3 separate regions of the Homo sapiens genome follow, and regions 2 and 3 are each linked to region 1. The links come from fine-mapping of genetic effects on gene expression. A gene starts in region 1. Each other region holds a variant in brackets. All regions are shown on one strand. Distances are between the middles of the regions. Region 1 holds the start of MFN1 (mitofusin 1). Region 2 overlaps GNB4 (G protein subunit beta 4). Region 3 overlaps GNB4 (G protein subunit beta 4).

Region 1 (4,243 bases):
TTTCTGGAGACTGAGTCTTGCTCTTTCGCCCAGGCTGGAGTGCAGTAGCGTGATGTTGGCTCACTGAAACCTCCGCCTCCCGGATTCAAGTGATTCTCCTGCCTCTCCCTCTGGAGTAGCTGAGACTACAGGCACCTGCCACCACGCCTGGCTAATTTTTGTGTTTTTTATTAGAGACAAGGTTTCACCATATTGGACAGGCTGGTCTCGAACTCCTGACCTCATGATCCACACGCCTCATGATCCAAACTGCTGGGATTACAGGCGTGAGCCATCGCACCCGGCAAGATTAATCTTTTCGTTAAACATGTAATAGAAAGTTACCCCGAAAATCATCTAGACCTGGCTAGTTTTGAATATGTGGGAAACTTAGCCTATTCGAGTTTTCTATTTTTTCTCGGTCTAATTTTGGTATTTGATGTTTTCCCAGATTTTATACTTCATCTAAGCTTTTCAATTTGTTGGCATTTATATATATATCTATAGTTATTCTCCCCTTAATTTGTGTCCTTTCATTTTTTATGTTCTTGAACAGATTTGGCAGTGATACATCAAATTGATAATTTCTTTCAAATAACGTTAGTTTTTGTTAATATCTATGTTGGTTTTAGCGTTTATATTTTAATTCTTTTCCTTCTTTGTGTTTACTCTCCTGGCTTTTTGGTAATATGTGTGTTCCACACACACACAAAAGCAATGGATTAAATTTCTTATTACTTACTATATTAAACATTTAATTACCGTGCTATAATTTATAGCCTGTAATATGTCACTCTTGCTTTAAAATGCAGTAATTATATTAAATATAATTATTAAGTACAGAACTAATAAAAGGATACCATCATGATTTTTAAAATTCAAACAGAGTAAATGTTCCCTTTGAGACTACCTATGCTCAGAACTGATGGATTAGCTGGCACGACCCAGACCGATAAACTGGCTCATCTGACCTAGTGTCCCCCAACCCAGGAACTGACTCGTGCAGAAAGACAGCTTCCACTCCCTGCGATTTCATCCCTGACCAATCAGCACTCCTGGCTCAGTGGCCTCCCCCAACCCACCAAATTGTCCTTAAAAATTCTGCTCCCCAGTGCTGCTCGGGGAGACTGATTTCAGTAATAATAAAACTCCAGTCTCCCATACAGCCGGCTTTGCGTGACTAAGTCTTTATTTGCAATCCCCCTGTCTTGTATCAGTTCTGGCTAGTCAGCGGGCAAGGTGAAGGCTTTCCTTGGGCGGTTACCATCCGAAGCTTTAATTTTAAGTATAATGGCAAGCTGTTGGAAAGCTTTTTTTTTTTTTTTTTTTTTTTTTTTTTTTTTTTTGAGATGGAGTCTGGCTCTGTCGCCCAGGCTGGAGTGCAGTGGCGCGATCTCGGCTCACTGTAACCTCCGCCTCCCGGGTTCAAGCAATTCTCTGCCTCAGGCTCCTGAGTAGCTGGAACTACAGGCGCCCGCCACCACCACGCCCGGCTACTTCTTGTATTTTTAGTAGAGACGGGCGTTCACCGTGTTAGCCAGGATGCTCCCGATCTCCTGACCTTGTGATCCGCCCGCCTCGGCCTCCCAAAGTGCTGGGATTACAGGCGTGAGCCACCCCGCCCGGCCTGGAAAGCTTTTTAAGTTCGGAAAGTAATACGATCTGGATTTCTTTTCTTTTATTTATTTATTTATTTATTTGAAAAAATGTCTCGCTCTCTTGCCCAGGCTGGAGTGCAGTGGCACGATAAATCACAGTTCGCTGCAGCCCCGGGCCCAAACAATCCCCCCGCCTCAGTCTCCGAAGTAGCTGGGACCACAGGTGTGTGCCACCACGCCTCGCTAAGTTTTTAAAATTTTTTTAATTTTTCATTTTTTAATTTTGTAGAGACGGGGAGGAGGAAGAGGGTCGGGGGCGGGGGGGGGGGCGCCTCCCTATGTTGCCCAGCCTAGTCTCGAACTCCTGGGCTTAAGAGATATCCCACCCCTTCGGTCTCCCAAAGTGCTGGGATTATAGGCGTCAGCCACCACCATCATTGGAAGCTAGCTAAGCCTAGGCTGGGCAGATACTTGGACACTTTGAGGGGAGAAGGGAGGGGAAGAAGTTGGAAGGGGGAACGGAAAACCACTCTCCTGGTAGCAGTCTCTGCCCACAACAAACCTTGCCTTCTGCCCTTAAGGAAAATGGCGCCTGGCATAGATGCGCTTCCGGCCACGGAGCCAAACAGAACAGAGGAGGCAAGAGGCCGGAAGTGACCGCCCTTTGCCACTCCCCCTGCCTCCTCTCCGCCTTTAACTTCTCGGGAAGATGAGGCAGTTTGGCATCTGTGGCCGAGTTGCTGTTGCCGGGTGATAGTTGGAGCGGAGACTGTGAGTGCCGGCTGCCTCGACAGCACGTTTGCGACGCTCGGAGTGACCTTCGAGCGACTGGGGACCGGGGGCGGGAGTCGTGCATGCAGCGTTGTGTGACGAGGCGCCGCCCGCCGCGGTCCTGTGGGAAAGGAGAGAGCCAGCTGTCGGGCGAACGGGGCTGGCGGCCGAGTCGAGCCCACGGAGCCCACGAGGCCGTGCTCGGGGGTGGGATTGGGGGATCCGGACCTAGACGGTCGTGCGCGGGGCGGGGGTGGGCTCTGGCCCTGACTCCTGCGCCCGGTGTGGGAAGGTGGGAGGCCTTTTCTAAGGCAGGTGTTCACACCGGCCGGACCGGGGCGTTACCCCCACCCGGCTTTTCCCACGCAGCTCCTTCGCGCGGTCATTTCTTGACTCTCTGGAAGAATCCGCCTTCTTTATGGCCACTGTTCCTTTCCATGTACACACCAGGATTAGACCGTGATTGTTTGTCTTTGGTGTCTTTTTCTTGAGAAACCACCTATGCTTTCTTAAACTTATAGTCCTTGAAGTTTCTGGTACTTTGGCTGGAAGCGTTAATGCCCTCTTGAAGCCTTACCTTTCTAAATGTCAGCCTCACATTGTGATCTTAGAATTTTATTTCCTCACTCTGCATATCCACTCCTACTCACCTAGAGCTTCAGGTTGAGAAACTTAGTAACTTCCTTATTGTGTGTGAATTTGGCTTCGCCTCACTAACCCTGTTCCCTGATGTACTTTAGAGTCACATGCAGTGACAAACTTAGTCACAATTAGTTTCGTCTTCACCAAAGGGAAATTGAGTAGAAATTGCAACCAAGATTTTGGCTAATAGATTTCACTTATTTTAGTGAAATATCATTCAAAAGTCGTCTCTAACTGTCTGACTAGAACACTCCCAAAAAAGAATTACCTAAAAACATTTTGCCAGCATAATTTATTTCATTGGGGAGTTGATGAATGTCACTGGTGTGTCATCAGTTTGCATGTCTATCATCCACTTTAGTTGGTGCTTTTCTAACTTTATCTCCCTCTAGTAGCATAATGGCAGAACCTGTTTCTCCACTGAAGCACTTTGTGCTGGCTAAGAAGGCGATTACTGCAATCTTTGACCAGTTACTGGAGTTTGTTACTGAAGGATCACATTTTGTTGAAGGTTAGTTCTTCTTAAGTTTTTAAAGTAATTACTGTTGAAAATATATAAAAGTGCTTATTCTTTCAACGTTAGTTATTGAACACATGTATAGGGCATTATACTGTATACTATGAGAAGTACCATAATGAATAAAACCCCTTTCTAACCTCCAGAAGGGGAAAATTAAATGGTATTAATAACAACTAAGAACTTTAGTATATTAATAGCTCATTTAATTTTCATCACCACTAGGTGATGAGAAATAGCTATGTTAATAGTTCATTTAATTTTCATCACCACCATCTGTCATTTTAAAGATGAAGAGACGAAGTCAAAGAAAAGTTAAACAGTTTGCCCAAGATCACACAGCTAATAAGTGCCCAGACAAAAAATCAGGCAGTCCACATTTAACCATTATACTTGTCTCCTCCCCAATTTAGCAGTTAAGCCAAGACCTCAGACATATCTCATTCTCTCAAATGAGGCTGAATTGCAGTGGAAAGGGGGAAAAAGGAGTTTCATAACTGTTAAAGGTGATGAGGAATGTCATGTCTTACTAGGGAATACTTCTTTTTTTTTTTTTTGAGACAGAGTCTTGTCTTGTTGCCCAGGCTGGAGTGCAGTGGCATGTTCTTGGCTCACTGCAGCCTCCACTTCCTGGGTTCAAGCGATTCTTCTGCCTCAGCCTCCCAAGTAAATGGGACTACAGTGCACGTGCCACCATGCCTGACTAATTTTTGTGTTTTTAGTAGAGACAGGGTTT
Region 2 (4,243 bases), 79 kb after region 1:
TTTTTACTAATCTTTTCTTCTCTTTTCTTGTATCATCTTTGTAGAGATTTTATTTTTGGAGACAGGGTCTTGCTCTTTTGTCCAGTTAGAATGCAGTGGTGTGATCATGGTTCACTGCAGCCTCGAACTCCTGGACTCAAGCAATCCTCCCACCTCAGCCTCCCGAGTAGCTGGGACTACAGGCACAAGCCACCACACCCGGCTAACGTTTTTTTGTTTGTTTTTGTAGAGACGGATCTCCCTATGTTGCCCAGGCTGGTCTTGAATTCCTGTCTCAAGCAATCCTCCCGCCTCAGCCTTCCAAAATGCTGGGATTACAGGCGTGAGCCACTGCCCCCAGCCTACTCTTCACTTTTAAATTAGACAAATTCTTCAGAAACAGCTATTGTGAGAGGTTCAAACTGGGAAAAGCAGCAGCTGTGTTCCAAGTTATGAGATTCTCCCTGCTTACCCTTGTACGTTGCTTTAGCCTTTACTTTTCTCTGGGAAAAGAAGTAGGCAGCTGCCAGGCTACTCACAACTCAAAGCCTCTTTCCTCCACCCTGCTTACCGCCAGGCTTCCTACAAGATGGCATGTCTATATCCTTTCATTTTTAGCTCTGCCTTCCTTGATATTTCTCAGTGCTAATGAAGTCCAAGGAAGCATCTGTTCCCATTGTTCCAAAGAAGGGACCGTGGTGCTGTCTCTTAGAGAGTGCTCCCCACGCAGACGCCTCCTCTCAGAGCCTCCCCACGTGCTGCTGCTTCACTGCATTTGGCAACTCCTCTCCATCCATTACGCTTTGAAGTTCTAGTGTCTGTTAATTTTGTTAAAGATGGAGTTTGTAGTTGTTTCTTATCCTTACTGTTTTGAGTTGATTCCAAGAGTAAAAGGTGTCAGACATGTTTTGATTCTGCCACTGATAGTTTTGTTTTGTTTTTCTGAGACAGAGTCTCGCTCTGTCACCCAGGCTGGAGTGCAGTGGCGTGAGTTCAGCTCGTTGCAACCTCCGTCTCCAGGGATCAAGCCATTCTCCTGCCTCAGCCTCCCAAGTAGCTGGGATTACAGGTGTGCACCACCACGCCTGGCTAATTTTTCTATTTTTAGTAGAGACAGAGTTTCACCATGTTGGCCAGGCTGGTCTTGAACTCCTGACCTCAGGTGATCCACCTGCCTCAGCCTCCCAAAGTGCTGGGATTACAGGCATGAGCCACTGTGCCCACCCTAATGATTTTCTGCAACCTAATTAATGTATAGATTAATATTTCCCTAGTGTGACATTATATTGTGACACTATCTACATTATGGTTTTGTACCAAAAATCTATGATTCTAGGCATGTAAATAAAAAGAGAATTATGTCTGTCTTTCATAGAGGCCATTCTTCTACATAGGTACTTGTTCGCAATGAATTTTGAAGAGTTCTTTCGAGACATGGTAAACACAAATAGACCTCAGTTCTTACTTCGCCATGTGAGAGAAAAAAAGACCATTTCTAGCCTTAGAAATCATTTAATATAGACTGATAAACTAATAGGCAAATTTTGTAGATTCCTGGTACTAAATAAGTGCTAACATTTTGAAATGAAAAGGTTTTACCTGAATCTGATTCCGCAGTTGTTCTGCTTCTTGCCTCAACTGTTCCAGTTCGCTCATTTTTTCAATTTGTTTACCTCAGGAGCTAATGAGTGAAAACAGCTGTTAAAAAACAGAGAGCAAGAGAAAGATTCAGTTCTCTACTTACATCTTAATCTGGTTTTACAATACTGACATATAACTTCTTTTTGGACCTACTGAAATTCAATGGAGGTAGTCAATTATTAAAGGAATTTAAAGATGCTTAGTAAATATAGAATGAGGTTATTTACTGAAGGGTTGTATACAAGAACATGATCAGAGGATGGAGGAGAAATTCCAAGTTGTAGTATTCAAGGCTGAATTATGGGGAATTAGTACCAGAATGGAGTCTGGTGAGAAATATTTTACAACAGTTCAGAGGACACCAAGAGACTTCCCCACTTGGATGTCTGGATTGGCACCTAACACAGTACCTCAAAACTGAACCCCACCCCACCCCCAAGCCTTCCCCATCTCAGGAAACGGCAAGACCATCCTTACTTACAATTGTTTAAGCTAAAAATGTGGGAGCAGTCCTGTTTTAATCATAGCCTCCCCATCGAATCCATTTGCAAATCATGTCAGTTATTCCTTAAGAAATTATCCAGGTTCTAATTCTGATTTCCTCCACTTCTACTGTCTGGGTCCACATCACCATGACCATCTCTCACCTGGTCTCCTTTCTGCTGCCCTCGACCACTCTCTGGTCTAATTAGAGCAACTAGAGATCCATTTAAAATACAAGTCACTTTAAATCCTCCAATGGTTTTCCACTCCACTAAACTCTAT[C/T]TTGACCCACAGACCCTGTATCATTACACACACACACCCCCCTCTGACCTCATGTATCACTCTCACACTCACTCTGTTCCAGTTGTTCAAAGACTTCTCTGATGTTCCCTGAACATGCTAAGCAGGCCCCAGTCTCAGTGTCTTTGCATTTGCTCCTGCCTCTGCTTGGATAGCTCCTGTCTCTGATTTTATAATCCCTTGCTCCCTTACTAAATCTGCCCAAATGTGATCTTCTCAGTGGGACCTTTGCTGATAGCACATGTGCACCCAAACATGCTCCTCTTACCCTGTCTTGTTTTTCACTATGAGACTCAACACCATCAGCATGTATTTACTTACTTGTGATCTCTTTCCTTCTGATAAGATGTAAAGGGTCTGGTGTGGTGGCTCACGCCTGTAATCCCATCACTTTGGGAGGCTGAGGTGGGTGCATCGCTTGAGGCCAGGAGTTCAAGACCAGCCTGGGCAACATGGCGAAACCTCATCTCTACCAAAATTACAAAAATTAGCTGGGTGTGGTGGCACATGACTGCAATCCCAGCTATTTGGGAAGCTGAGGCAAAAGAATTGCTTGAATCTGGGAGGAGGAGGCTGCAGTGAGCCGAGGTCACACCACTGCACTCCAGCCTGGGTGACAGAGTGAGACTCTGGCTTTAAAAAAAAAAAAAAAAAAAAAAGATGTAAAGTTCCTTCAGGTAGGGTCTCTGTTTGCTTTATTCTTTGTTGTATCCCCATCACTTAAGATACTTTGGTCTCCAGTAAATAAAGCAACCTGAAATAGCTTAACAAATAAAGGAATATTCATTCTAAGGATTTAGGATGAATCACAGAACCAAAAGACAGGAATATTACTACCTCAAAAAGACACTAGAGGCTAGAAACTGGGAGTATTCTTTCTCTACCTGTCCTGGTCTCTTTTCTCTTCTTATCTTCCTTGGTTTTTTTCTTTCTACAGAATGACTTTTTCTGCTCCCCTAAGTACAAAACCCAAGCCTATAACTTTTTAGGTCAAGATTGTAGCCCGAAATGACTGTCCTAAGTCCAAATTCCTATAAAAGATTGATTCCCCTCATGAGAGAGAATTTGGTTTTGATGTCTATGCTACAATCGCATCAACTATGGTACAAATATCTGTTTATTATGTTCAGACAAAAAGAAAAGAAAAACCAGTATCTATTTATTCTTTCAGAATTCACTTTGTATTTATTTTGTCCAATTAAAAAATAAATGTATTGGGATTGACTGGAATGGCATTAAGGTATATAAAACAGTTCCAGAAGAACTAAAATCATTCTAATATTCCATTTCCAATTTAATATTGTGGCATATTTCTCTGTTTATCCAAATTTTCCATCTTTATTTATGAGTCTTAACCATTCCCTGATAAAGTTTGATTGTTTAACAATTTAGTATGCATCTCAGAGAGGGCCAGACTGGACAGATTACAGCCGGTCTGGAATCCCATTCCGCTGAAGTGAAGACAAGCAGCATGCGGGCTCTTTAAAGCCGCAACCTTAGCTGCCCTTGCTGACCATTCCTGAGATATCCCTGGCCCCACAGTCCTAGAAACTCTCATTATTTTGATACCTCTTTATTTTTAGGGTCCCAAAACATTTTGGGTAAGCACAACTAGTTTACATCCCTCCTACTAACTAAAACACTAGAAAGAACTATCGAGGGACCCTAAAGGGCCTCGGGACTTTTTAAAAATTTGCAGTTATTATTATTACTATTATGGTTATTATTTGTAGAGATGGGGTTCTAGCTATATTGCCCTGCCAAAGCACTAGGACCAAAGGCATGAGTCGCTGAGCCCAGGCTGGGTCTCAGAACTTTTAAGCTTATTAAAAATTACCTG
Region 3 (4,243 bases), 62 kb after region 1:
AAATTAGCACAGCGTGTTGGCGGGTGCCTGTAGTCCCAGCTACCTGGGAGGCTGAGGCAGGAGAATCACTTGAACCCAGAAGGCTGAGGTTGCAGTGAGCCGAGATCATGCCACTGCACTCCAGCCTGGGTGACAGAATGAGACTGTCTCAAAATAAGTAAGTAAATAAATAAATAAGATCATTCCTACAGCTGCTCCATCTTACTACCTTACTACCATCTTACTATGAAAGTTTATAAAGGTCATGGTGAAGGGAAGAGAAACGCAGCTGGAGCCCACTGGCCTCCCTGAGTTGAGGAGAAAGCACTGGGAATCCAAGAAGTCCACAGCAGCTAGAGTTCACAGAGAGTGTCAGAGAGGACAATGCTTGGCAAAGAGAAAACTCCAGAGGCATGCTGAGGACATCCTTTAGGTAGTCAACTGAGTACCGATCAGCAGAGCCGTGTGAGAAAACTAATCAAGCTGCAAAAGACACCCAAAAAGATTACAGGAAACAAACCCTGGTGTGTACATAGGACAAAAATAATGCCTATCCCCTCCAGACAGAGGGAAAACCTCATAATAACCTCATTATACACCGGAAAAACCTCGTAATTTCTTGAGAAGAGGGGTTTTAAGTCTTTTGCCTCACCAGTGGGGCAAAATTAAGCACACACGGTGTGACTCTGGTCCCATCTAACAAAACTTACATGCAAACCCTATAATGATCAAATAGTTTCCAAGTAACTTAACTTGGCCAGTCTGATTTTAGCTATGCCCCAGAGCAAATCTAAATAATATTTTTATGAATATAAAATTATCTAGCATCCAACAAGGTAAAATTCACAATGTCTGGTATCTAATAAAAATTCACCAGACATGCAAAAAAGCAAGAAAATATGACCTATAATTAGGAGAAAAATTAATCAGTTGAAAAAAACAGAAAAAGTCACAGAAGATAAAATTAACAGACAAGGACAACAACGTCTGGGATGAAAAGTGCACTGGATGGGTTCACGGCCGATTAGATACAACAGAAAAGACATATGAAGGCAAAGCAATAGGACCCATCCAAAGTAAAATACAGAAAGAAAAATATCCTGAACAATAAGATGAACAGAACATGAGTGAGCTCTGGGAAAACTTCAAGTGGTTTAATGTCTATGTAACTTAAAGTCTCCAAAGGAAGGAAGAGAGGAGACAGAAAAAAAAATCTGATTAGGGGCTCGGTGCGGTGGCTCACGCCTTTAATCCCAGCATTTTGGGAGGCCGAGGCAGACAGATCACCTGAGGTCAGGAGTTCAAGACCAGCCTGGCCAATGTAATAAAACCCCGCCTCTACTAAAAATACAAACAATTAGCCGGGCATGGTAGTGTGCACCTGTAGTCCCAGCTACTCAGGAGGCTGAGGCAAGAGAATTGCTTGAACCCGGGAGGTGGAGGTTGCAGTGAGCCGAGATCATGCAACTGCACTCCAGCCTGGGTGACAGAGCGAGAGTCAGTATCAAAAAAAAGAAAAAGAAAGAAACTCAAAAAAAAAAAGAAACTCATAGATCCAAACACAAGAAACATGAAGAAGGGCCAGGCATGGTGGCTCACTCCTGAAATCCGAGCACTCTGGGAGGCTAAGACAAAAGATCACTTCAGCCCAGGAGTTCGAGACCAGCCTGGGCAACATGGCAAGACCCTATCTCTGCAAAAAATACACACACGCACACAAAATAGCCAGGCATGGTGGCACGCACCTGTATACCCAGCTACTTGGGCCCAGGGAAGTCGAGGCTGCAGTGAGCCATGACTGCACCACTGCACTCCAGCCTGGGTGACAGTGAAACCCAGTAAAAAAAAAAAAAAAAAATTATGGCTTTAAGTTCCAGTATTAGAAATTTTAAAAAGTTCCAAATCAATGACATCAGCTTCTATCTTAAAAAAACTAGAAAAAAGGCTGTGCACAGTGGCTCATGCC[T/C]GTAATCCCAGCACTTTGGGAGGCCGAGGTGGGTGGATCACCTGAGGTCGGGAGTTCGAGACCAGCCTGACCACATGGAGAAACCTCGTCTCCACTAAAAATACAAAAAAATCAGCCGGGTGTGTTGGCTCATGCCTGTAATCCCAGGTACTCGGGAGGCTGAGGCAGGAGAATCACTTGAACCTGGGAGGCAGAGATTGTGGTGAGCCAACATCACGCCATTGCACTCCAGCCTGGGCAACAAGGGAGAAACTCCATCTCAAAAACAAAAAAAAAAAGGCCAGGGGCTGTGACTCACGCCTGTAATCCCAGCACTTTGGGAGGCCGAGGCAGGCAGATCACGAGGTCAAGAGATCGAGACCATCCTGGCCAACATGGTGAAACCCCTTCTCTACTAAAAATTCAAAAATTAGCTGGGCGTGGTGGTGTGCGCCTGTAGTCTCAGTTACTTCGAAGGCTGAGGCAGGAGAATTGCTTGAAACTGGGAGGCAGAGGTTGCAGTGAGCCGAGATCGCACCACTACACTCCAGCCTCGCAACAGAGCAAGACTCTGTCTCAAAAAAAAAAACAAAAAAACAAAACAAAAAAAAAACTAGAAAAAGAAAAGCCAGTGAATCCGAGTGATCAGTTTGGCTTTGTTTCCCCACCCAAATCTCATCTTGCATTGTAATCCCCAAATCCCCACGTGTTGTGAGGGAGCCGGTGGAAGGTAACTGAATCATGGGAGTGGTCTCCCTGCAGGCTGTTCTTGTGACAGTGAGTTCTCACGAGATCTGATGGTTTATAAGGGGCTTCCCCCTTCGCTCGGCACTCATTCTCTCTCCTGCTGCCCTATGGAGAGGTGCCTTCCACCATGATTGTAAGTTTCCTGAGGCCTCCCCAGCCATGCAGAACTGTGAGTCTATTAAACCTCTTCTCTTTATAAATTACCCAGTATCAGGTATTTCTTCATAGCAGTGTGAGAACGAACTAATACACCAAGTAAGCAGTAGAAAAGAAATAATAAAGATGAGAGTGAAAGATCAATGAAACAGAAAAACAACAGAGTATCACTCAGAACAAAAGCTGGTTCTCTGAGGAGATAGTTGATTTATTTATTGATTGATAGATAGATAGATAGATATGTTCATTGCTAAGGCTGCCATAACAAAGCACCACAAGCTGGGTGGCTTAAACAAAAGGAATGTATTGTCTCACAGTTCTGGAGGCTAGAAACTTGAAACCAAGATATCTGAGGACTGTGACAGAAAGATGTGTAATCTTCTCACTGTCCTGTAGATGACTGTCTTCTCCTGTGTCTCTTCACATCATCTTCCCTCTATGCTTGCCTGTCTCCAAACTTCCCCCTTTTATAAGGACAATAGCCACGCTGGATTAGTGTCACCCAATCCATTATGACCTCATTTTAACCAATTATATCTGGACCAACCTTATTTTCAAATAAGGTCACGGTCTGAGGTCCTGGGCTTTAAGACTTCAACATATAAATTTTAGATGGGCACAATTCAACCCACAGTCCCAGACTATCAGGAAAAAAGTAAAACAGAAATTACCAACATCATAAATGAGAGCAGGATATCCTGTAAACTCTATAGATATCAAAAAAATTGAGAGTATAATAAATAGCTGTAAGCCAATAAATATGACAATGTAGATGATATAGATAAAATCTTTGAAAGTTCACTCAAAAAGAAATGGATAACCTAAATAGCCCCATATCTAATACGACATCACATTATACACTGTAAATATATACAATTTGTCAATTATACCTTAATAAAGTAGGGGCTGGGGAGGAAAAAAGCCTTGATCTATGATAGAAATAACTGAATCTGGCACTGAGTTAATGAAATTAATAATCACAGTTTACAATTATTAAGTGTCTTTACTGCTGAGAGACACCTAGAGGCCCCACAAATATAGAGCCAAATGGAAAATTTCAGCAACTCACTCAGTGAATATATGGGGCTCAGCCACAAATGAAACTATTATAGTTTCATTTCTAAGCCTAACATTCTAAACAGTGTGAGAAATGTCACTGTTAAAATCATCACTGAATTTCAAAATATTATAAAAATATAATGAAGTTGGTCATAATTTCATCTGAAAAAAGGAAAACTGTTATATATACAGTATCTTTGTTTGAATCATTTTATTCCAAAAGGAAGCCTCTATATTTACTTATATTTGTAAAAGATGGTACTAATGTTTTGACAAAAAAAAAAAAACAGGAGAAAATCAATGTAAACACACCATTTTAAGTGGCTGAAAAAAAACCACACGAACATCTCAACAGAC

The links. PIP is the estimated chance that this variant, and not a neighbour inherited with it, causes the effect. A credible set is the group of variants that fine-mapping cannot tell apart.
Region 2: its variant is the best candidate, but not a certain one, in a credible set for the expression of MFN1 in subcutaneous fat (GTEx, PIP 0.65).
Region 3: its variant is the best candidate, but not a certain one, in a credible set for the expression of MFN1 in whole blood (INTERVAL, PIP 0.50).

Annotation. Positions count from the first base shown.
Region 1 is chr3:179,345,463-179,349,705 of GRCh38, forward strand. It overlaps MFN1 (mitofusin 1), which reads left to right and starts at 2,247. Exons shown (of 18, transcript NM_033540.3): 1 at 2,247-2,348; 2 at 3,383-3,501. The coding sequence starts at 3,390. RefSeq lists enhancers at 1,956-2,485, 2,819-3,038 and a silencer at 2,539-2,698.
Region 2 is chr3:179,424,566-179,428,808 of GRCh38, forward strand. GNB4 (G protein subunit beta 4) reads right to left here. Exons shown (of 10, transcript NM_021629.4): 2 at 1,579-1,677. The coding sequence starts at 1,635. Among named protein-coding and RNA genes, the nearest start is that of GNB4, 25 kb to the right of the region's middle. The variant C/T (reference allele first, on the strand shown) is at 2,386.
Region 3 is chr3:179,407,307-179,411,549 of GRCh38, forward strand. The region is part of intron 8 of GNB4 (G protein subunit beta 4); the gene reads right to left. Among named protein-coding and RNA genes, the nearest start is that of GNB4, 42 kb to the right of the region's middle. The variant T/C (reference allele first, on the strand shown) is at 1,946.